Linked DNA regions of Homo sapiens: region 2 is linked to region 1. Evidence: fine-mapped expression QTL. A gene starts in region 1. The other region holds a variant in brackets. All regions are shown on one strand. Distances are from middle to middle. Region 1 holds the start of LINC01150 (long intergenic non-protein coding RNA 1150). Region 2 overlaps MRPL23 (mitochondrial ribosomal protein L23).

What was found. PIP is the estimated chance that this variant, and not a neighbour inherited with it, causes the effect.
Region 2: its variant is the best candidate, but not a certain one, in a credible set for the expression of LINC01150 in whole blood (Lepik 2017, PIP 0.71).

Annotation. Positions count from the first base shown.
Region 1 is chr11:1,891,005-1,901,915 of GRCh38, reverse strand. LINC01150 (long intergenic non-protein coding RNA 1150) reads right to left here and starts at 5,157. Exons shown (of 4, transcript NR_120534.1): 1 at 4,771-5,157. LSP1 (lymphocyte specific protein 1) reads right to left here. Exons shown (of 11, transcript NM_002339.3): 11 at 9,653-10,143. PRR33 (proline rich 33) reads left to right here and starts at 10,021. Exons shown (of 1, transcript NM_001395380.1): 1 at 10,021-10,911. RefSeq lists an enhancer at 3,897-5,096.
Region 2 is chr11:1,950,915-1,961,825 of GRCh38, reverse strand. It overlaps MRPL23 (mitochondrial ribosomal protein L23), which reads right to left. Exons shown (of 5, transcript NM_021134.4): 2 at 10,805-10,911; 3 at 9,617-9,699; 4 at 8,971-9,044; 5 at 5,226-5,570. The coding sequence ends at 5,406. Among named protein-coding and RNA genes, the nearest start is that of SNORD131, 7.0 kb to the right of the region's middle. RefSeq lists an enhancer at 3,009-3,787. The variant C/T (reference allele first, on the strand shown) is at 5,816.

The sequences.
Region 1 (10,911 bases):
CTAATAACTAAAATGCACCTTTCTGACATTCAACGGCTACCTTGAAACCATTTTGTGAAAGAAATTTACATCTCCACAAGACATTTCCATTTGCAACGTCTGGGAGGGACATCCCTTTGTTTTAAATTTACGTAACAAGTCTTACCTTTGTTTAACGTGTTTTTCCTGGCCATGTTGTCTTCACTGGGCCTTGCTTTTTTCTTGGTTGAGCAAATGATGATGGTACAGTATTTAAGCTGAAAGTCTCAGCTTAAATAGCTTTTCATATATACATTTTCTGCCTTGTTTCACCTAAGAGTTATCTTTTTTGAAGGCAAATTGTTCCCTAGCTAACGATTGCTTAGGATGATAAAACAAGTAATTAGAAGATTGATAGTCTAAAGGGGGAAAAGAAAACTATTTGAAAGCTGGCAAATGAAAATTCTTTCTGAAATCTGTAAGATCTGTTTCTATCTGTGTCTGTTATGACTATATGTCTCTCTGTATGACATGTATCTGATAATATTTAGGAAAAAGCTGAAACCACCTTTGCATTGTCTCTTTGACTGAGACGGTGAGAGACATCTAACTTAATTGACTCCATCTTGCCTTTTTTTTTTTTTAGAGGTGGTGTTTTGCTCTTGTCGCCCAGGCTGGAGTGCAATGGCGTAAACTTGGCTCACCACAACCTCTGCCTCCTGGGTTCAAGCGATTCTCCTGCCTCAGCCTCCCAAGTAACTGGGATTACAGGCATCTGCCACAACGCCCGACTAATTTTGTATTTTTTTTAGTAGAGATGAGGTTTCACCATATTGGCCAGGCTGGTCTGGAACTCCTGACCTTGTGATCTGCTCACCTCGGCCTCCCAAAGTGATGGGGTTACAGGCGTAAGCCACCGTGCCTGGCCCTTCCATCTTGCTTCTAACCTCCTTGCTTATTCCTGTCCTTGCTTATTCCTGGGAGTAGGCTGAACTAACTTTGGGAGAAACTTAGTTTATAGTTTAAAACAAAGACGATAACAGCCTTTCCCAGTGGAGAGAGCTACTAAGGGCCCCTATAGTATCCAAAAAAGAGAGAGACAGAAGTATTTGATAAATTAAATTACATGGGAAGCACTGCCAAATAAGAAATGATGTTTAACCTTATTTGAGATATTGTTTGTGAATACGTCATTAATATATGCTCCAAAATTGTATGGGGTTCCTAAAATTCTGATACATCCGGGTATATGCTGTCACTCTTAATTACAGTTAAGTTATTGTAGGCCACAGAAGTAATCAAAATTCCTTGTCAGTTCTTCTTTAACCATGACCATTTTACGTCATTTCCAGAGTTAATTGCTTTTTTCTGACGTTTCTGAAAACTCACAAACACACACAGTCCTACAATATTGAGTCCTCCAGGAGGTTCGTGAAAGGAGAGAAAGGACCCTGATAAGCCCTCTTGAATAGGCTTCTGATAACTTTAGTGTAATGTCATTTGGACTGGGTAAAAATTCCCGGAACTCTAATGGAAAGATTGACTGGTTTATAAAATTGCTAACCTGGGCAGGACAAAAATTAATTGAATACCAAGAAAACACTTTGCCAGCTTTTCATGCTAAATCAGCCAGTACTGATATTGTTTAGATACCCAATTTGAATTAAATCCATCGTCCAAGTCAAATTACCTATGATAACCCTTCTAATAAACAGTGCTATGCACCTGAACTGGAGAAACAAAATTGGTATTTAAGAAGATATAAGTCCAGCATCAAGCATGGACACATGGACAGCCAAGATGGCCACCTGGTCCTTCCTGTGTCCTTGAAGCTTCCACTATTAAATGCTCTGCACTCCATGATTCATCATGGAAGAGACAAATTAATCCAAATTTTATATATATATGTATATATAATATACATATATATATTTGACATGGTGACCGTTGTAAGTTGTTAAAATGGTTTACGACCAATGTTTGGTCTGCCAAACCCATAATCCTGGGAGGACAATCGAAACTTCCATTACACTTCTGCTACTTGATGGGCCATTGAAACATTGCTGGAGGGATTTCCTTCAATTGTCATTTTCAATGCGTGTTTTCTGGTTATATAGAAGCTTTCCCAGGCAAGAGCACTGATGTTATAGCAGTAGCTAAAAGATTATTAGAAAATTGTTTTTCTCATGGGACGTCCCTTGAGAAATCTCCCATGATAGATGTACTTGTTTCACTGCTCAAGTGGTAAAACTGTTAATAACTTGTTACAGATACAATAATATTAAGCAAGGGAAATGAATGAACTGGGCTGCCTTGGTCAAGGGTGTTGCAGGTGGATGGCCGTCGGGTCCATTTCCAGTGGAAAACATAAGTTGGTGCCTTATGAAATAGTCCCTGGAAGTCCTATATAGAACCTCATGTATCTTCCACTCCTCAACTCCGATATGGCTAAAGGCTCCTAGGCCTTAATGCATTATGCCTAAGTATATTTTCACCAGGTACAGAAAGCTTTTCATGGTCCACTGAGGACCCTATCAAACGCTTCACAATCTAGAACCCAGACATTTGGTTTTCTGAGAGTATCACAGAAAGACTGCCCTTGCCACCCACACTGCAGTGAAATTCTAGGACTTTGAACCCTGGGTTCGTTATCTCACCGCTCAAGAGGGCATCGCCAGACTCCAGCAACTGCAGCCCCATTGGAGATTTTAAGGTAAAGCTAATCAGGGAAGTTTCTCCCCAGAAGCAGCTGGCATCCCAGATATGGACAGCTTTTTCCCAAGAACTTGAGACTGTCATGCCTCTGAATAATAGAACTAAAAAGGGATCTCTTATGTGCACTCATGGGGTATACTTTTATTTGTGGAGGATTTTGCAGCCAATCCTATATGTGGACAACCTTTTGCCTTGACAGTTGGAAGACGAAGGGCCAATGTAGGTGAAAAAAAAAATTAGCTCACTCCAAGTCTCACTCTGTTGCCCAAGCTGGAATGCAGTGGTGTGATCTCAGCTCACAGCAACCTTTGCCTCCCAGGTTCAAGCGATTCTCCTGCCTCAGCCTCCCAAGTAGCTGGGATTACAGGCACCTACCACCAAGCCCAGCTAATTTTTGTATTTTTAGTAGAGACAGGGTTTCACCATGTTGACCAGGCTGGTCTCGAACTCCTGACCTCAAGTGCCCACCTCGGCCTCCCAAAGTGTTGGGATTACAGGCGTGAGCCCCTGTGCCCGGTCTGGGTGAAAAATGTTGAGGGTGCCTTTGTTGCTTCCCAATCAATCACAAACAACATCGCTCCACTCCTCTACATCACAGCTTAAAGAGAACTCTGGCAGGAGCTTCACTCTTCTAGATGGGCACTGTTTGTGAGGCCTCTTTTTCCATGGTTTGGAGTAAATGAGGCAAAGATTTAAAATGTATCCCTCTGCTGGGCGTGGTGGCTCACGCCTGTAATCCCAGCACTTTGGGAGGCCGAGGTGGGTGGATCACAACGTCAAGAGATCAAGACCATCCTGGCCAACACGGCAAAACCCTATCTCTACTAAAAATATTAAAAATAAGCTGGGTATGATGGCGGGCGCCTGTAATCTCAACTAATCGTGAGGCTGAGGCAGGAGAATCGCTTGAACCCAGGAGGTGGAGGTTGCAGTGAGCCGAGACATGGCTGGCGCCGCTGCACTCCAGCCGACGGAGCGAGACTCGGTCTCAAAAAAAAAAAAAAAGTATCCCTCGTAATTGGCTCTGGAACAGATTCTACTCCAAAGGCTATGGTTACACAACAGTCTTTAAATTCTCTTGCTAAAGGTGTGTGGGATGATAGACTTGCTCTGGATCCCTTACTAGCTAAACAGAGGAGCGTCTGTGCCGTTGCCGATGCTTCTTGTGGCACATGGAGGAATGTATCAGGTATTAGAAAGGTTCGGTTGTAGGGGATTAACAAACAGGCTGCTTGTTTGAAATGAGTAGACTCTTTATCCAGCTAACTCTCTGATCTATTTGATTTTCGTTGGTTTGCTTCATGGGACCCCACCTAAGGAGCATGCTTCACATTCTTGGTATTAAATATGATCTTCCTGATGGTCATAATACTCGTCTCCCTGGCGCTCTGCATTCTCTCCGGAGTTTTAAATGTTTGCATGCAGCCATCTGTAGGATGCTAAATGGTGTCTCTTTGACTGGAGCAACAAGAACTCAAAGAAACACAAGGCCATGAGGATGTCGTAACCTAGGTACGAATGACATTCTGTGACCGGAAGCTGGAAGTGGCGGTGACTGAGGGTGGTGCCAAGGCCCTAAGGCTTGGCTACACTTTCCACTAAATGAGAACCTGACCAAAGGCAGGGAATTTTTAAACAAAATTATAAGAGGCCATTGTTTTGGACTGAGCTCCCGCAAGAGGCCCCAACGGACCAGACCAAACCCAGATGGAGTCACGCAAGCTAAACGCAACACCATCAAACCGAAGCTTTACGGAAGCAGATAGGTCCTAAGGCAGACCAGGGTTTGTTTTTCTGAGCACATGAAATTCCAGCACAAGGAGGTTCCTCTCTATCCCTTACAAAAATATATAACCCGAGGTCCTCGTTCCCACTTACGAAACCCATTGTTCTGCTATTTCCCAGTGGGGCTTGGGACCAAACAAGTACATTTACAATGGCGACAGGGACACCAATGTCTAAAGGGGGAAATCGTTAAATTAAGCTTGGCGTAAAGCTGCCTCCTGACATAGTTTATGTTCCGCCTTCTCCATCCACTGTGAACTGAAACCTCACTGGAGACGTAAACAGACTGAAGCCTTCCCTTGTGCCACTCACCAGGTTTCCGCTCATCAAGGGTGCCGGCCATTCCAACCGTGTTCAGATAAGGCAAGCATGGAGCTGCAGCCCCTCTGGCGGTTTCTGTGCTTTGCTTCCGTTTTCTGTGCCTCCTTTCCCTTTTCTGTCCACCAATCTTCAGCCACACGGCAGCACCAGAGCCTCTCTGAACCTATTTTGGTTTGGGGGCTGCCCCATTAGCGAGTGGTTCTTTGCTTAATTAAACTCTGTTAAATTTAATTTGTCTAAGGTTTTTCTTTTAACAGTACAGAAAAAGCATTTGAAAAATCCAACGTCGGTTCCTGATTTGTTTAAAAAACATCACTCAGTAAATTAGGAATAGAGGGAACTTCCCTAACCTAATACAGGATATCTATGAAAACCCCACAACCGATGGCGGAAGACTGAACAGTTTCTCACTAAGAACAGAAAGGAGGCTGGGATGTCCGCCCTCATCACCTCCGTCCAACATTGACCTGGAGGTTCCTGCTCGTGCAATTAGGCCCCCAAAAGAAATAAAAGCCATACAGACGAGAAAGGAAAAAGAAAACAATCTTATCTACAGATAACGTGACCATCTAACCCGATGGAATCAACAACAAAAGAAAAACCTGCAAGAACTACTCAGTGAGATTAACAAGGTTGTGGAATAACAAGACTGATATACAAAGTCCATTGTGTTTCTATAAAATGGTAATCAACTATCAGATATTGACATTAAAAATACCACTTCCTAACTGTATAAAAATAGACAATACTTAGAGGTCAATCTGACAAAAGATGTGAAAGACCTCCAAATTGAAAGAGTAAAAAATCCTTGGAAGAAGTGGAAGAAGACCTGAATAAATAGGGACATCCAAGGTTCGTGGATTAGTAAGTTCAATACTGTTAAGATGTCAACTCTCCCTGCATTTATAGAAATTCACAGGTCCATTCTAAAACACATATGGAAAAGCAGAGGAGGAGAAGAGCTAAAACAATCCGGAAAAAGAACACAATTGAAGAGCTAACATTCTAAGAATTCATATAAGACCAGTGTAAGCAAAACTTGAGTGATACTGGTGTAAAAATATTCAAGTAGATCCAAAAGAAAACGGTCCAGAAATCAGCTTACACACACAGACTGATGACTTTTTTTCAGGCAGGGTCTCACTCTGTTGCCCAGGCTGGAGTGCAGTGGTGCAATCTCTGCTCGCTGCAGCCTCAAATTCCCAGGCTCTAGGGATCCTCCCACCTCAGCCGCCCAAGTAGCTGGGACCGCAGGCACCCACCACCATGCACAGTTCAGACTTTTGACAAAGGTGCAAAGGCGACTCGGTGCACAACTGTAGCTTCTTCAAGAAACCATGCTGCAGCAATTTCATATTCTGGAACAACTGGATCTCCATATGCAAAAAGAAAAAGAAGAATAATTTGCATTCGTACCTCACACTATACACAAACATTAACTCAAAAAGGATCGTGGGTCTAAATGTAAAGCTGGAGCCATAAAAACACAGGAGAAAATCTTTATGGCTCTGGATAAGGCAAAGATTTCTCAGACATGATACCAAAAGCACAATTCCTAAAAGAACAAATTGACAAACTGAAATTCATCAAAAATGTTTAAAATTTGCTCTTCAGATGGTTAACGGTGAGAGGACAAGGCCACCAACCAGGAGAAAAATCTTTGCAAATCTATTTCATCAAGGATTGATTCAGAATATATACAAAGAACTCTCACGGTGGCTCACGCCTGTAATCCCAGCACTTTGGGAGGCTAAGGCAGGCGGATCACTTGAGGTCAGGAATTCGAGACCAGCCTGAACAACATGGTGAAACCCCACCTCTACTAAAAATACAAAAATTAGCCCGGCGTGGTGGCAAATGCCTGTAGTTCCAGCTACCTGGGAGGCTGAGGCAGGAGAATCGCTTGAACCCAGGAGACGGAGGTTGCAGTGGGCCAAGATGGCGCCACTGCACTCCAGCCTGGGCAACAAGAGCAAAACTCCATCTCAAAAAAAAAAAGAAAGAAAGAACTCTCAAACTCAACAATAGGAAAACAAATAACCCAATTTTACAGCAACGGGCAAAAGATCTGAACAGATGCTTCCCCCAGCAAGATGTATCAGTGGTGAAGTAGCACGTGCAAAGCTGCACGGCACCCCTGGTGCCGGGAGACACGCAAGCCAAAATCACAGACCGCACCCTCCACGTCTAGGAAGGGCCAAAGTCAGCGAGATGAACCATTCCAACTGCAACAAGAAATGAGAGCTAGGCCGTTTCTGAACAAGTTTCACACACACCTCCCACGGCATCTAGTCGTTTTATTTCTAGGCCTCTCCCCAAGAGTAAAGGAAATGTATGTCCTTCTGAAAACCTGTGTGTGAATGTAAATGGCCACATTACTTTCCATCATTCAAAACTGGAAACCACCCTGATGTCCACCAAGAGACGAACAGATGAGCGGGTTGGGGTGTACCCATGCTGTGGCAATAAAAATGAGTGTTTACAACAGACACAGCAGCAAGCATGGATCTCAGAATAGTTATGCTACGTGACAGAAGTCAGACAAGGAGTGCGTGCGTGCTGCAGGATGCCATTTATGTAACACTGTAAAAAAGCACAAACCCTTGGGTGCAGGGCTCATGCCTGTAATCCCAGCACTCTGGGAGGTGGAGGCAGGGGGGGTCGCTTGAGCCCAAGAGTTTGAAGCCAGCCTGGGCAACATAGCAAGACCTCGTCTCTACAAAAAAAATCAAAAACTTAGCCAGGTGTGGTGGTGGGCACCTGCGGTCCCAGCTACTTGGGAGGCTGAAGCAGGAGGATCCGTTGAGCCCAGGAGGTTGAGGCTGCAAGGAGCTCTCATTGTGCCACTGCACTCCCAGCCTGGGAAACAGAGTGAGGCTCTGACACACACACACACACACACACACACACACTCCCACACTCCCAGCCTGGGAAACAGAGTGAGGCTCTGACACACACACACACACATTCCAGCCTGGGAAACAGAGAACTTGTCACACACACACATACACACAAACACACACACACTCCCAGCCCGGGAAACAGAGTGAGGCCCTATCACACACACACACACACACACTCCCACACTCCAGCCATCCACCCACCCACCTACCCATCCACTCATTCATCCCTTCCTCCATCCATCCTTCCCGCTCTCTGTCCATCCATTCATCTATCCCTTCACCCATCCATCCACCCACCCATCTACCCATCCACTCATCCATCTCTCCATTCATCCATCCACCTATCCATTCACTCACTCACCTATCTATCTATCCGTCCTTTCATCCATCCTTTCATCTACCCATCCACACATCCATCCCTCCATTCATCCATCCACCTATCCATCCATCCACCTGTCCATCCACTCTCATCCATCCCTTCATCCATCCATCCATCTACCCATCCATGCATCCATCCCTTCATTCATCAATCCCTCCATTATCTATCTATCCATCCATCCAACCACCTACCCATCCCTTCATTTATCGCTCCTTCCATCCATCCATCCACCCACCCACCTACCCATTCACTCACTCATCCCTCCCTCCATCCCCCCTCTCTCCCTCTGTCCATTCATCCAGCCATCCCTTCATCCATCCATCCACTCATCTACCTATCCACTCATGCATCCCTCCTTTCATCCATCCACCTATCCATTCACTAACCCATCCATCCATCCATCCAGCCAGCCAGCCAGCCAGCCAGCCATCCTCCCACCCACCCATCCATTCACCCACCTATTCACCCACTCATCCATCCATTAGTCCATCCATCCACCCACCTGCTTACCCATTCACTCATCCATACATCCCTCTATCCATTCATCCATCCCCTATTCATCCACTCACCCATCCCTCCACTCACCCACCCAACCATTCATCCACTCACCCACCTACCCATCCATTCACCTGCTTATCCGTCCACTCATCCATCCATCTATCAATCCATCCATCCACCCACCCACCCACTTACTCATTCACTCATCCATATGTCCGTCTATCCATTCATCCATCCCCTATTCATCCACTCACCCATCCCTCCACTCACCCACCCAACCATTCATCCACTCACCCACCTACCCATCCATTCACCTGCTTATCCGTCCACTCATCCATCCATCAATCCATCCATCCACCCACCCACCCACTTACTCATTCACTCATCCACATATCCCTCTATCCATTCATCCATCCCCTATTCATCCACTCACCCATCCCTCCACTCGCTCATCCAGCCATTCATCCACTCACCCACCTACCCATCCATTCACCCACCTATCTGTCCACTCATCCATCCATTCATCTGATCATCTATCCATTCGTCCACCCACCTACCCATCCATCCATCCACCCACTTGCCCACCCAGCCATTCATCCACTCGCCCACCTACCCATCCATTCACCCACCTATCCATCCACTCATCCATCCATTAATCTATTCATCTATCCATTCGTCCACCCACCTACCCATCCATCCATCCACCCACCCATCCACCCATTTGTCTGTTTTCCAAACCTTCACTGAGCACCTCCTGTGTGGTGTTGGGGGAGGCCCCGAGGTGGATCTTGCCCTCAGTGGGTGCGAAGTCAAGGCACAGAAGTTTATATTGGGCTAGTCCTGGTTGGGGTAGGGATATCACAGACATTCTGGAAAAGGAAGCCCGGACCCCACCCATTGTGTGTGCTCTGACTTAGGCCACCAGAGAGCTTATGTCCTGGCGTCTTATACTGCAAAGGCCATGAGACAGGTCAGACTGCCTGAACCCAGAGGCCACAGCATGCTGTGCAGTGTGGGAATGGGCTGGCCACTGGCCCAACATTTCCATCCTGGCCAGCCCTGCCCCCTTAGTGAGTACAAGACAGCCAGCACATGAGAATACACAGGGAGCTTTATTATACAAAATGGCGGGGTGGGGGGCGGCAAGCAGCGGGGGACGCAGCATCAAGCATCCTGCATGGCCGTTATCAGCCCTTGACCTGCAGTTTCTCCTTGGATCTGGGGGGGTGACCCACCCTCTCTGCACAGGCTGTGCCTCAACCTCCTAACTTCCTAGAAGGCACTTGGCCTCTCCAGGGGTAAGTCCCTTTGGCCAATGATCAGGAGTTTCTTTCCTCCCCCAAGTAACAAGAAGCGGAGCTGGGTGGGGAGGGCGGGGGCGGTGGTCAGAGAGTGGAAGGGCAGAGAGGCTAAAGGGTCCAGGAGCAAAAGGAGGTGGCAGCGGATGGCATCAAAGAGGCGAGGGTAGGTCATGCTGGCAACAGGAAGCAACTTCTTAGCCAGGGCCGGGGGGCGGGTGTCTGGCTGGAATCTCCCCTGGGTACATGGAGGGTGCCAGCCGGCTGGACCTGCAGACCCAGGAAGCTGGAACATAGGCATGGGGTGCAGGGGGCATTAGGCTAGGGTCCAGGGAGGGGCCACAGACCTGCCTCCTGCAAGCCCACAGAGCCTGCTCCCCGAGCCTCTCTCTGCTGGCCTCCCTGCCCTGCCCACACCCCCACTCCACCACAGGAGAAGACGTCCTGCCTCAGAGGCCTGCTTCCCAGTGCGAGCACTTGTGCCCTGGGTCAGGACCTCTGGCTGGAGACCTGACTCCTGGTGGAGGGAAGGCGGCCTGCCTGCCAAGCAGCCTGCCCACCCTGGGAGCTAGAACTGGGGTTCTCGTGGTTCCTGCAGTCCCGTCATCCAGAGGAGGCCGGTAGCTGAGAGCAGTCCTAAGCAGGCTCCTTCCGCCCCCACCCCTCCAGCAGCTCTGTTCTTGCCTTGGCAGAGCCAGCCCCCACCAGCGGCAGCCCCCAGGACTCCCTCCTTCCCCAAACCAGAGAGCCTCTGGCTCGGACAGATGCCATTTGTCAATGTCCTTGCAAACACGTGGTGCCCAGAAACCAGGGTGGGCGGCTTGGCCGGGCCACCCCAGACAGGAGGTCTGCGGGAATATCCCATTTAGCATAGCTCAGCGAAAACTGCTCCCACCTTCCGGCCAATCTACCTCTGATGATGCAGCCTCGGCTTTCCCAAGCCTCTTGGCCGCCACCCCTCACCGCTGGCTCGCAGCGGACGCGCCTGTGGTTGAGCCGGCGACAACAGGGCGCCCCTCACGTGTCTGGGGGCAGCCGCTCTTCCAGCCCTGGG
Region 2 (10,911 bases), 60 kb before region 1:
CCCAGGCAAGAAAATGCCCGATCCCTCCAAGAGAAACGGCAAGTTCACATCCACGTAAAAATGTGCACACACGTGTGCACCACAACCTTGCTCACGAGAGCCAAAAGGCGGAAGCCGCCACGTGTCCACTGATGGACGGCGGATGAACACGCGGACCGTTCACCCAGTGGAGCACGACTCAGCCACAGAGGGAAGGAGATCCTGGGGCAGGCTGCGACATGGGTGCGCCCTGAAGATGCCACACCAAGTGAAATAAGCCAGACACGAAAAGCCACACAGACCCTGAGTGGTTCACTCATGAAACATCCAGAACAGGCCAATCCAAAGCAGACCAGTCATAGCCAGGGGCAGAAGGGAGCAGGGAGCTGGGAGCTCCAGCTAAGGGGTGCACATTGCTTTCTGGGTGATGAAAATGTCCTAGTAGGCTACACAACTCTGGGAATATACTAGAAGCCATTGAGTGGGTGGATTTTAGGGTATGTGAACTTCATCTCAATAAAGCTGTTTTTTAAAAATAGAAAAGAGCATCCCAAGGCCAGTGCTCTCTCAGATCACTGCAGCCACAGGCCTCCTGCTCTGGGGGACCCCCCATGGCCAGGCAGGGATGCCAGGCGGTGCTCGGCTCACGCCACCTGCCCACTCAGCCAGGCCCTGGCCAGGAGCACCCACCAAAGCCCGAGGAAGAGGATGGCAGCCTGGCTTTCCCACCTGGCCAAGCTGACTTCCTGAATCGGGCACTCACTCACTCACTCGTTCACTCAGCTAATACGGCTGATGGTTGCAGGAAAGGTGGGAGGTGGGAGGGCAGTCCCAAGATGGCAGCCACTACAGCTACCTTCAAGGGGCTGGCCTTCTCCAGCCTGTCCTCACTTTAAGCCCTGGGGTGGACCAGGAGGAACCGCTGTGTCCCTGGCCTTCGTCCCCTGCTGGAGGCCAGAAGATGGGAACCCCCAGTGCAGACAGGCAACCGCGAATGTGACTTCAGGTTCTAGACTGCAGAGGCATGTGTTGGCTTGAGGCAGAGGGGCCCAAGGAGGTGGGTGGGGGCAGGATGGGGCAGAGGAGGAGCCCAGGGAGCCAGGGACAGGAAGAGCCCACTCCTGCCCCAGCACCTGGCTGCTCATCTGCCACCAGGTACGGAAGTGATGCCATAGATGGGACACTATCAAGCCGCCCCAGGAACACTGCCAGCTCCCAAAGAGGAGAACCAGATGCCCCAGATGCCCTCAGGAGGCATCTGGAGGCGCAGGAGAGGCTGGAACACGGGGGCCCCAGCAGTCCTGTCCACCCGGCATGCCATGGCAAAGTGCAGCGTCCACTATGGAGAGCGTCTTAGGGCAGGCGGAGGGGTGGAAATATGGTCAAAGAGAAGAATTCTTGGCCTTGAAAGAACTCTTAGCCGGTTAGGGAGATGAGACGGGCACTCACGTACACCGCAGCCCAGGCCCTGGCCACCACGCACAGGGCACTGCAGGCATCTCTGCAGGGCCCCAAGACGCAGAGACGACAATGCAGGGAATTCTGGGGGTGCGGAGCTGTGAGCGGTGCTGGAGATAGAGAGGAGGGGACCGAGGGTGCGGCACCTGGGGAGGAGGAGGACAGAAGACAGAGGGGTTTCTGCTCCATTCCGGCAGCTTGGCTCTTACCTGGAGCTGCCAGGGCATGGGCTCCTGTGGGCCGTAGAGCTGGGCCCATCATGGCTATAAACTCATCAGCATAGAGAAGTGGGGCCGTCCAGCTATGAGCACAGCCCGGTGCGGTCCCGAGGGCCCTCCACCCCTTCCCATGCACGCAGCATGGCACTGCCTGGGCCTTGCATCACCCCTGCATGGCAATAAATGAACATGAATGGGGACACGGAGCAGCGCTGTCGGCTCTCTCCCTCGTCCTGTTGCCTTTGTCTCTGGCTGTCCCCGACCCTGCTCCCAGCTGGAGATGTCCACGAGGGGAAGGGCTGTCATGTTGGGGGCGACCGAGGCAAGGCCGCGGGCCCACTTGCTATCTCTTGGGTCAGGGTCCCTCTCCCACTCCTGCCACGCTGAGGATGTCCAGACACAGGCGGGAGTGGTCCTGTCAGCCTTGGGAGATGCATCTTTCCGGGCGAGTTCCTTCTGCAGGAACAGCCTGTTTGGGTTGGACAGGGGTCTTGCCCAGGTGTGGGGGTGGTGAGGTTGACGCCCGGGCCGGAGGGGCCCTGTGAGACCCTCTCTGGTCCCCATGCATGAAAGAGCCTGTGTGAGCACATGCGCCACGACAGTGGGCCCTCGTACTGGGGAAAAGACAGACCTGCCCAGGTGCTGCTCCCTCCCTCCCTGAGCCTCCAGGCAGGAGCGGGTCACGGGAGCTGGCGCGTCCAGCCGGTCCCTTCTGTGGGCTGTGTGTGTGCCTGAGGTGGTGGGAGCAGACCCCCAGCTGAACCCGAGCATCCCACTCCACCCAGGGCCCTTCCTGTGGGCCCTCCCCGCACAGCCCTGGTTGGCTACCCCAAGCTCAGCTCCATGGGTGCGGCACGCAGGGCTCTTGGAGAGGCCAAGCCTTCCAGACCCTGAGTGGGGCCGCCTGCCCACCCCGGCCTGCTCCGCGCTCCTCTGCAGCAGGCATGTGAGGTGGGTGTGGATGCTTTGGGGAAGACTACCCAGTGACATGGCTAGGTCATGCCACACGCGGCTGGGACAGATACCCGGGGGCCTCAGTTCTGACACCCGGCTCAGACCAGAAACCATTGGTCAAGTCAACGACCCAGAAAGTGGGGTCTTGTGTGAATCACCCACCCCCGCCGAGGACTGGCAGCCCTGTTTCTCACGCTGGACCGCCACACGCCCGTCCCTATCCCCCATTCTTCAAGAAATGCGCCCAGCCTCACCCCGTGCTCATCCCCGCATTTTGGTCTTGCCTCCATCTGGGCACCCCCTGGGACTGGGCCCAGGCCACGCACTTGGCAGGCCCCTGAGGCTATTATCTCCCCTAAGGCCCGGCCCTCAGCCAGCCCCTTACCGGGGTCAGTGGGCTGCCATGCAGAAGGATGCCCAGTGACGACTGGGGAGTGAGGGAGCCCCTGGTGTGCTGTGGAGATGGGGGTGCAGTAGCTCCCCAGCCCCTTTCTCCTCCCTGGCAGGGAGGCCTGTGGGAGACATGGGGGCTGCGACGGGACAGCACAGGCCGGGGTGAGACAGGGCGGGAGGAGGATCTGGAGGCCGGGGCGGCTGGAGCCGGAGTCAGGGCTGCGTCTGGGGGTGGCGGCCGTGATGGAGTGTGCCTGGTGCGCTGGCCGCCAGCAGGGCTGCTAACGGCCCCTGTGTGCGGGGCTGGACGTGCCGTGGATGAAGGATGGGATTCCTCTTCCCCTGCCGTGAGTTAGGGTCCTCAGAGCTCTAGGCCCCATGAATTATTTCTCTAAGGAAAACACAGTTGACTCCATTTCTCCGGCTCTACTTCCTGACCTTCCCCATCCCTTTAAATCAACACTGAAGGGTGAGCTTGCCCGGGCCTTCACCCCCTAGCCGAACACTTCCCCCGCCACACCCCCTCCTGCCTGCACTCCGGGCTGGGGGAGGGGAGGCTGAGCCAGCTGCCACGCCATCTCCTCTTGCAAGACCCTCGGAAGGCTGCCCAAGCAGAAGGAAAAGCCAGGACCCTCACTCAGACCACAACAGGCCCACGCTGCAGATCAGGGTTGGTCCCAAGGCCACGTGACACCTGTGTTCTTCTGAGCATTCGCATGGGGAGGCTTACACGGCAAACCCAACTTCGTGCAAGAAAGCCGCGCCGTGGGCTTTCCCCCAGACGCCCGAGTGCGGCTCCGTCCTGGTCAGGGTGGAGCGCAGATGGCTCCCGACGTACACGTGGGCCCTGGTTTTGATTCCCAACCCCAAAGCCGGAGCTGCCCGCACACAGCAGGGAGGGGGCCTTGCTCTGGCCTCCATGTTGGATTTTCTCGGGAAGCACTGGAACCAAGGACAGACTAAGAAAAACAGAGGGGCCCCCAGGCCTCTGCAACCCGTCCTGAGGACGCACCAGCTGCCGCATGGAGACGGGGCCAGAAGGGGCTCTGGAGGCCCTGGGCCTCACCAGATGCAGGGGTTCTGGGAAGAGGGGCTGGAAACCTTCCGGGCTCCTTGGAAGGTTCTGAATAAGACATCATTAAAACCAAAAATCAATTCTGTATCCAGCTCAGGGCCCCCTGGAGGCTGCCCCGGCTGGCCTGTCCAGCTTTGCTGGAACGGGAACCCAGGCCAGTCTGCCAGGTTCAGGCCCCAAAAACGGCGGCCGGGCAACCCCCTTTTGCTCCCACAGGCCAGGCCAGGCTAGGAGAGGCAGCACAGAGCCTCTGGCAGGGCCACAGGCTTCCACGCAGAACCCTTTAGACAAGAATCAGAGCAGGGGCCGTGCGTCCTGACCTGCCCTGGGCCGACAGAACAAGGGTCTAGACCCAGGCATCCACCCAGACACTGCGAGGCCACTGGGCACCTCCAACAGGATGCTCAAGCCCACCCTCTCCTCTCTCGACCTGTCCACCCCCAGGGCCGAGAAGCCCACAGAACTGTTTTGCAGTGGTTGCTGGCCACACCTTGCCCCCTGCCCTAACCACCTTTCCAGGCTGGGTCCTCCCTGTCCCCTAGGCCCAGCCCCGGGCCTGTGCCCGACGGCACCTCTCCGCCCGACGGCACCTCTCCGCCATGGCTCTCCTGAGACACTGCTGCCCTCGGATCCCTTCCCGGCCCTTCTCGGGTTCTTGCTGCCAACAGTGCCAAACCGAAACCCACAGGCGGGCCGGAGTTCCCTCACCAGGCCCCCTGAGGGCTGCTGCCCTGGCAGCCCCTCCCCAGAACTTCTGTCCAGGCCAGGCCGTTCTCTCACCCGGCGCCGCCCCGTGCTCACGCTGACCCCTCCATTCCTCCCGACGCCTCTGGGCTCAGGCTCTGAATGTGGGCGCTCAGAACTATCTTCTGGGTCTTTTCACCTGCGTGTCTCATTCCCCACCTGGCATGCAGCTCCGAGCCTGTGTGTGGCCCTCTCTGGCCAACCCGCCTCCCCAGCATGGGGCCACGTCTCAAGTCTGCCCACCCTCAGTTCCCCGTCAACTCAGAGACCAGACCCCGGCCGCGCCCACTGCCCAGACCCTGGGAAAGCGGAGCCAGGCCACGTGGCGCTCAGAGCTGGGGGGTGGCTGCTGCGTGTCTGGCACCCAGAGACCCAAGAGAAGAAGGAAGCAGAGCTTCCGGCTCTTTCTCCTGCAGCAAGACTTTTATTTAGGTGTCGGGACTGCTCTGCCACAGCTGCCCACCTGGGGCGCGTCCCTGCTGGCCGCCCCGTCACGGCCCGAACCAGCTGGGGATGCCGCCCCGCCGCGGGTCGCTGCTCTGCCACAGCTGCCCACCTGGGGCGCGTCCCTGCTGGCCACCCCGTCACAGCCCGAACCAGCTGGGGACGCCGCCCCGCCGCGGGTCGCTGCTCTGCCTCTGCTGCCTCTCCTCCTCGAGCATGCTGTAGAGGTCGTCGGCAGCGCTGCCTTCAGGGCTCTCGTCTTTCTCGGGAAACAGATCTGGGAACGTGAAGGTCTGTCCATGGGCCTAAGGGGGAGAACAAAGGCTCCAGCCAGAGCTGCAAAGACTCCTCAGCAGAGGGGTCTGTGGGGGAGCCTCATGCTTTCTGGCAGCCCCTTTCTGCCGGCGCCGGATTCAACTGCTCAGAGGTACCTCCCTGGGCCTCCTGGGGCAGCGTCCCTGCCTGGAATGTAAGCACCCCCACGGCCACCGGCCCCCGGCTGTCACGCTGCAGCAGAGGCCACAGCTCCAGGACAGGGCCGCTTTCCCCA[C/T]CATTGTCTCTTTAGGGCCTGGTGTCTGCCCCCGCCCTGGGTGCACCCATTTACTAGCACGGGGCCACCTGGTTGGTGGGGGGCAGAAACAAGGCATGGAAAAACATGACACAAATCACGTCTGGTACCATGCTGAACCTGTCCATCCAAAATGCCTCAGGCTCTACTCACATTAAAGCTCCCCCTCCTCCCAGCCCAGAGCCTGGCAATTAAAGTGAACATCACGTACGAAGAAACATGCACGTGCGGCAGTTGATAAATCAGGACCGGCTCTGCCAATTAACTGGTCTTACATCTTCTGCTGAGAGTTCAGAATATGTCCGTGTCAGCCAAGCCCCAGCCCAGGCCACAGCATGTGGCTCGGGTTCACGAGAAGGAGGGGATACTGCTCCTTGGGGACCTAAGCAAATACAAGAAGCCATCTTAACTTGCTAATGATTACTAAGTGCTCCAAAGCTAAGAGGCAGAAAGAGCAGACCAGAGGAGAGGGAAGAGAAGAGGGAGGAGGAGTGAGGATGGCACCCGAATCTGGAACCCTTTAGTGAGTAAAATCAGTCAGGTACACTTGGCTCTTGCAGACCCTTTGTGTGTAAATAAATCTGGATGTGGGCAGGCAGCCAAGTATGATCTGAAACAGGCCCAGATCCCACCCTGCGAGGGAGGTGTATGCACCCTGATCCCTGGCGCAGAGCGCAGGGGCTGGCGGGGAGAGTGGCACTGCGTGCGCCGTAGCCGGCCTGCAGGAGGATTGCCTTACACAGCTCTGAACTTTGCGTCTTTTAAAATACCAAGGGGCAGTCGTTTACACGTGAGGCTGACTGCCCAGAATGGGAGATTCACCTTGACTATATGGAGGTGATTCTGCTAGTTTTCCGAGGCAAGGGGAACCCAAAATGACAGTTTAAAGCACAAACATGGCCATTTGTCACAGCTTCGGGAAGAAATGGGGAAAGGTGCTGAGAGAAAATCCGTTTCTTACAGGAGACAAACACCGTTTGGGGATGCCAAGCATGGTTTCCCAGGGGCTTCCCCTTTCTAGAAGAGTTCACCTTGTACCTAAAAAAAAAAAGCCCTTGATCCTTCCAAAAAGGAGAGAGACAGCTGATCGGGGTAAAGAACAGGAATGGAGAAAAATGTCCCAATGACAAGTAAACAAGGCAGCCCTGCCTTCAGGAATCCCAGGGCGCCCTGGGGGCTGCCGCCTGCCTGGACCTGGAGGCCGGAGCCCCGAGCACGGAGCTCGGCCCAGCTGGCGGCAGCGGTTTGTTCTGGAGTTGCCTCTCATGTCGTGCGCCCTTCATTCCTGCGCGCCCTTCATTCCCGCGCTGCTCAGCATCCACACAAGCCTCGGGGCAGCGGGCAGTCAATGGTCTTTTTGTTGTGTGGGTCACTGAGGCGCTGCTTTCAGCTCCCAGGACTTTGGGCCAAGGAGATGCTTATCAGGTTGTCGGAGAAAGAAATGTGGGACTCCCGCCACGTGGGACAGGGCCTTTCCACAGCGGCCAACTCCAAATAACGTGGATAATTTTACCTTTCCAATGCTCCCTCCCTGGGCTTTGCAATTAGCAGTGATTCTAAGCCCTGGCGCAGGGCCCAGGGGGACACGCTGAGCAAGGTCTCAGCAGACACGAGACAGGAAAGGGCCTTGAGAGTCCCCTCTGCGGGCAGACAGGGACCAACGGCCACGGCCCATTTCTAGGCTGTGCAAAGATGTGCTGGAGTTCAGGAAGGGGGGTGAGGACCCGTTACAAATTTTCATTCTGGAACAGGAGGATCCATGCCCAACTGGGACCCTTCAGGCTCCCAGTTGCCCTGCCCTGTCTCTGGCTGCCTGGACTTCACAGAGGGAGAACAACACGCGGGCAGCAGCTGCAGACACCGGATCCCGGAGCTGCTGGGTTCAGTTTTCATGGGAGGTGGGGCCCAGAGGAAGAACGCAAGGGCTCGGATGACTTGAATGCCACTTGTAACCGTAGCTGCCTCTGAAGTGCCCGTGGCGGTGCCGGCACACGGGATGTCCACCCACATGCCATGACAAAGACAGATGGGCCCGACTGACACTGAGCACACAGAGGCCTTTATGAGGCCAACGGCTGCTCTCCCCACCTGGATTGGCTGATTTCATGCACAGCAAATATCAGGCCAAATTATTCCGGGGGCCCCTGTTTAGAACAACAAATGTGACTGTTTTTCAGAAAAGCTGCCATGCTAACTTGGCCTTTTTCACAAACTGCCTCCTTAGCCCCACAACAGGCCGGCTGGCCCAGGAGGCGGTTTCCACCATCGTGTGACTGCCATCTAGTGGCAGGGCCCGCCGGCTCGGCCTCCAGGGACCATTTACACCGGAAGACAACCCCATCCCCACCCAGTAAGGCCAGCCCCAGGGGCAGAGTGGGGAGGCCCAGGAGGCGGCCGGGGCAGGCTGTGGACATCTTGGCCCAGAGAGAAAGTGCCTCTGGGTTTGCCTGGGACTCAAAATGAAGAGCCCAAAGAAAGGCTTTGAAACTGTGGGTCTCACTCCTGACAAGTCTGGGTTTCAGAAACTGAAGGCCCAGGCAACGTGGGGTGAGGGTTCTTCCTCCCCAGAGCCCCCCAGGATACGTAAGAAAGCACCTGCTCAGAAGCAGCCTGCTGAGCCCTAACAAGTACGTGGGACCTGCTACCCTGCAATGCAGGACATGGGCCTCAGCCAACAGCCCGGCCAGCCAGACCTGCCTTGGCACCAAAGACCTTTGCCCTCAGGGGCCTCACACTCTGCCTCCGAGGCTGAAACCCAGCCAAGGACAGGCTCTCCAGAGGCCGGGGCCTCCCATGCTCTGACACCCTGGTGTGCGTTGGAGTTGAAACCCACTAGGCCTGTGATGGCTGCCTTTGCCCACAGAGAATTCAAACTTCAAAATCACAAAACGGCCGGACGCTGAGACGTGCCCCATGTGCCCCAGTGCTCACGTGCTCCCAGCGCCACCACTAACACCCCCAAGGCCGTGACGGAGCATGACCTTATGTGGAGCCTGCCTCTGCGCTGAGGCCCTGAGATCCGGCCTCACGGGGGCTCCCTGGGCCCCAGCGCAGCGTCTCCGGCACAAACATCCCCAAGGACACAGTTGCGAGGAGCCCCTCGGAGGCCCCGCTGGGGCTGGCCAGCTCACACGCACCAGCTGCACGTAGGCGACCTTGTAGTCCGGCTTCTTGATCCTCACGTTTCTGTGATCTCTTCTCTTGTTAGAGCCTGCCGGAAGGGAGTGAAAAAAAAATCAGAACTTTAAAAAAATCAGAACTTTAAAAAATTACATCCTCAGAGGTCAATGCCACTAAAACGAACCTCTGCTCTCTTAAAAATGTAAATATGTTTTTAAAAACTCAAAAAGGCGATTTCTCAGGGAAATGGGCACTGTAATCAAACGAGCCAGCACAGCAGGCTCCCAGGCTCCTCCCTTCTCCCAACAGAGGCCAGCAGGTTCTCAACAAAGGAGCGGACGTGGCACCAGCCAGGGCACACGACAGGGGCTTATGGAACAGACAGCGCTTTGCTCCCCAGCCTCAGCCACTGCAGTCCCACCTCGGGGGCTGACGGCAGGAGTCAGGGCTCAGAATGGACCCCGGGCCAGCCCAGTTGAATTCCAATCCCTGCTCTGGCACGTAAGCACCGTGTGACCCTGACAAGTCACCCTGTGCCTCAGTTTCCCATGAGCCACGTCAGACCAAGACCCCCATGCAGTAGCTGAGGCTGTGGCTCGGCGAGGTGGGCATGTGGCACAGATGGGCACGACACCAACAGGAGAACCTCCCATGGGCACTCACCATGCTGCACCCGTGTCCGCACAGCAGCCACGGGCACGTTATAGATGCCCTCGAGGTAATTCCTGAGGTCCACCCTTGTCATTCTGGAGGCGAAGGAGAAAGAAAACGGCATCTTAACCAGGCTAAAAGCCAAAAATACTGTCCCAGATGCACAAGCACCCGAGGCTGAGAGGCCGACAGACCAAGACCCACAGGGGGCAGGGAGGAGGGCTGGGTACATCAGCGGCACTAGTGAGGCCAGGCAGCCCCAGCAACACCAGTGCTGCTGGCTGCAAGACTCCCTACTCTGGGCACACCAGCATGGGGTGGCAGTGGCACAGACCCCACAGAGTGGGAGCACTGCCCAACCAACCCCTGGCCTGCTCCACAGCCCCACATGGCTCCCTGCTCCGGGCAAGTGCCTGTGAGAGGAGGTGACAGTCTCTGCACGCTCCTGGCTGGCAGGTGCCCCACCTCGTCTGCCCCGGGGCCCAGTGGCCGCATCAGGGTTAGGCCTGCTCTGCGGCTGATGGGACTGATGCGGTTCTAGGAAGTACCTTCTGGAAAGGCCTGCCTGGCATTCGGTGCGTTAACTGCAAGTTCCCTCTACTGCAGAACCTCACGGTCACTGTCAACTCAGCTTCTGGGCCCCTGCAGGCTGCACAGGCCTGACCTTCGCCCCCAGGGGAGCTCACGCTGCTGCCCCGCCTGGCTCGCATCAACCCTGAGCTGGGGACCTGTGAACTTAAACACTGCAGAGCAGCACCCCAGTTTTGCTCGTAGGGACTGTGCATTTCTCTGAAGGTCAAGCAGGCTCTTCTGAGCGGTTCTGTACATCACGGCCTGCTCCCAACCCAGCCTCTCAGGGCGCCTCTCCTAAAAAGAAGCTGCAAGAACTCAACAGAAGACGCGAGCACAGAGGTCCAAATTTTAAGGCTTCCAGTGAAGCCGTCCCCGGGTGGAGGGCGGCGTGCAGCCTGCCTGCCGGGCTCCACACCTACAGGCACTCCATCAATACTTGCCGGGCAGGGCCGCCTGAGGTGCCTTCCCAGCAGGAAGAGGCTAGCACGTGAGCAGAGTTGTTTTAACTCAGGACCCAGGCCCCCCTGAGGGCACTCTCCCAACCCAGCGGGAAAACTTCCGGGCTCACTCCACGGGGATCCCCCCGAGGGTGCTCCCCAACCCCAGCCGGAATCCTCCCGGACTCACTCCATGGGGATCCGGAACTGCACGGTGTCCTCGGGCTGGGCCACACCGGGCCGCACCAGCTGAATGAAGAAGTTGGTTCGGAACACCCGAAGTTGTGGGCCACCCAG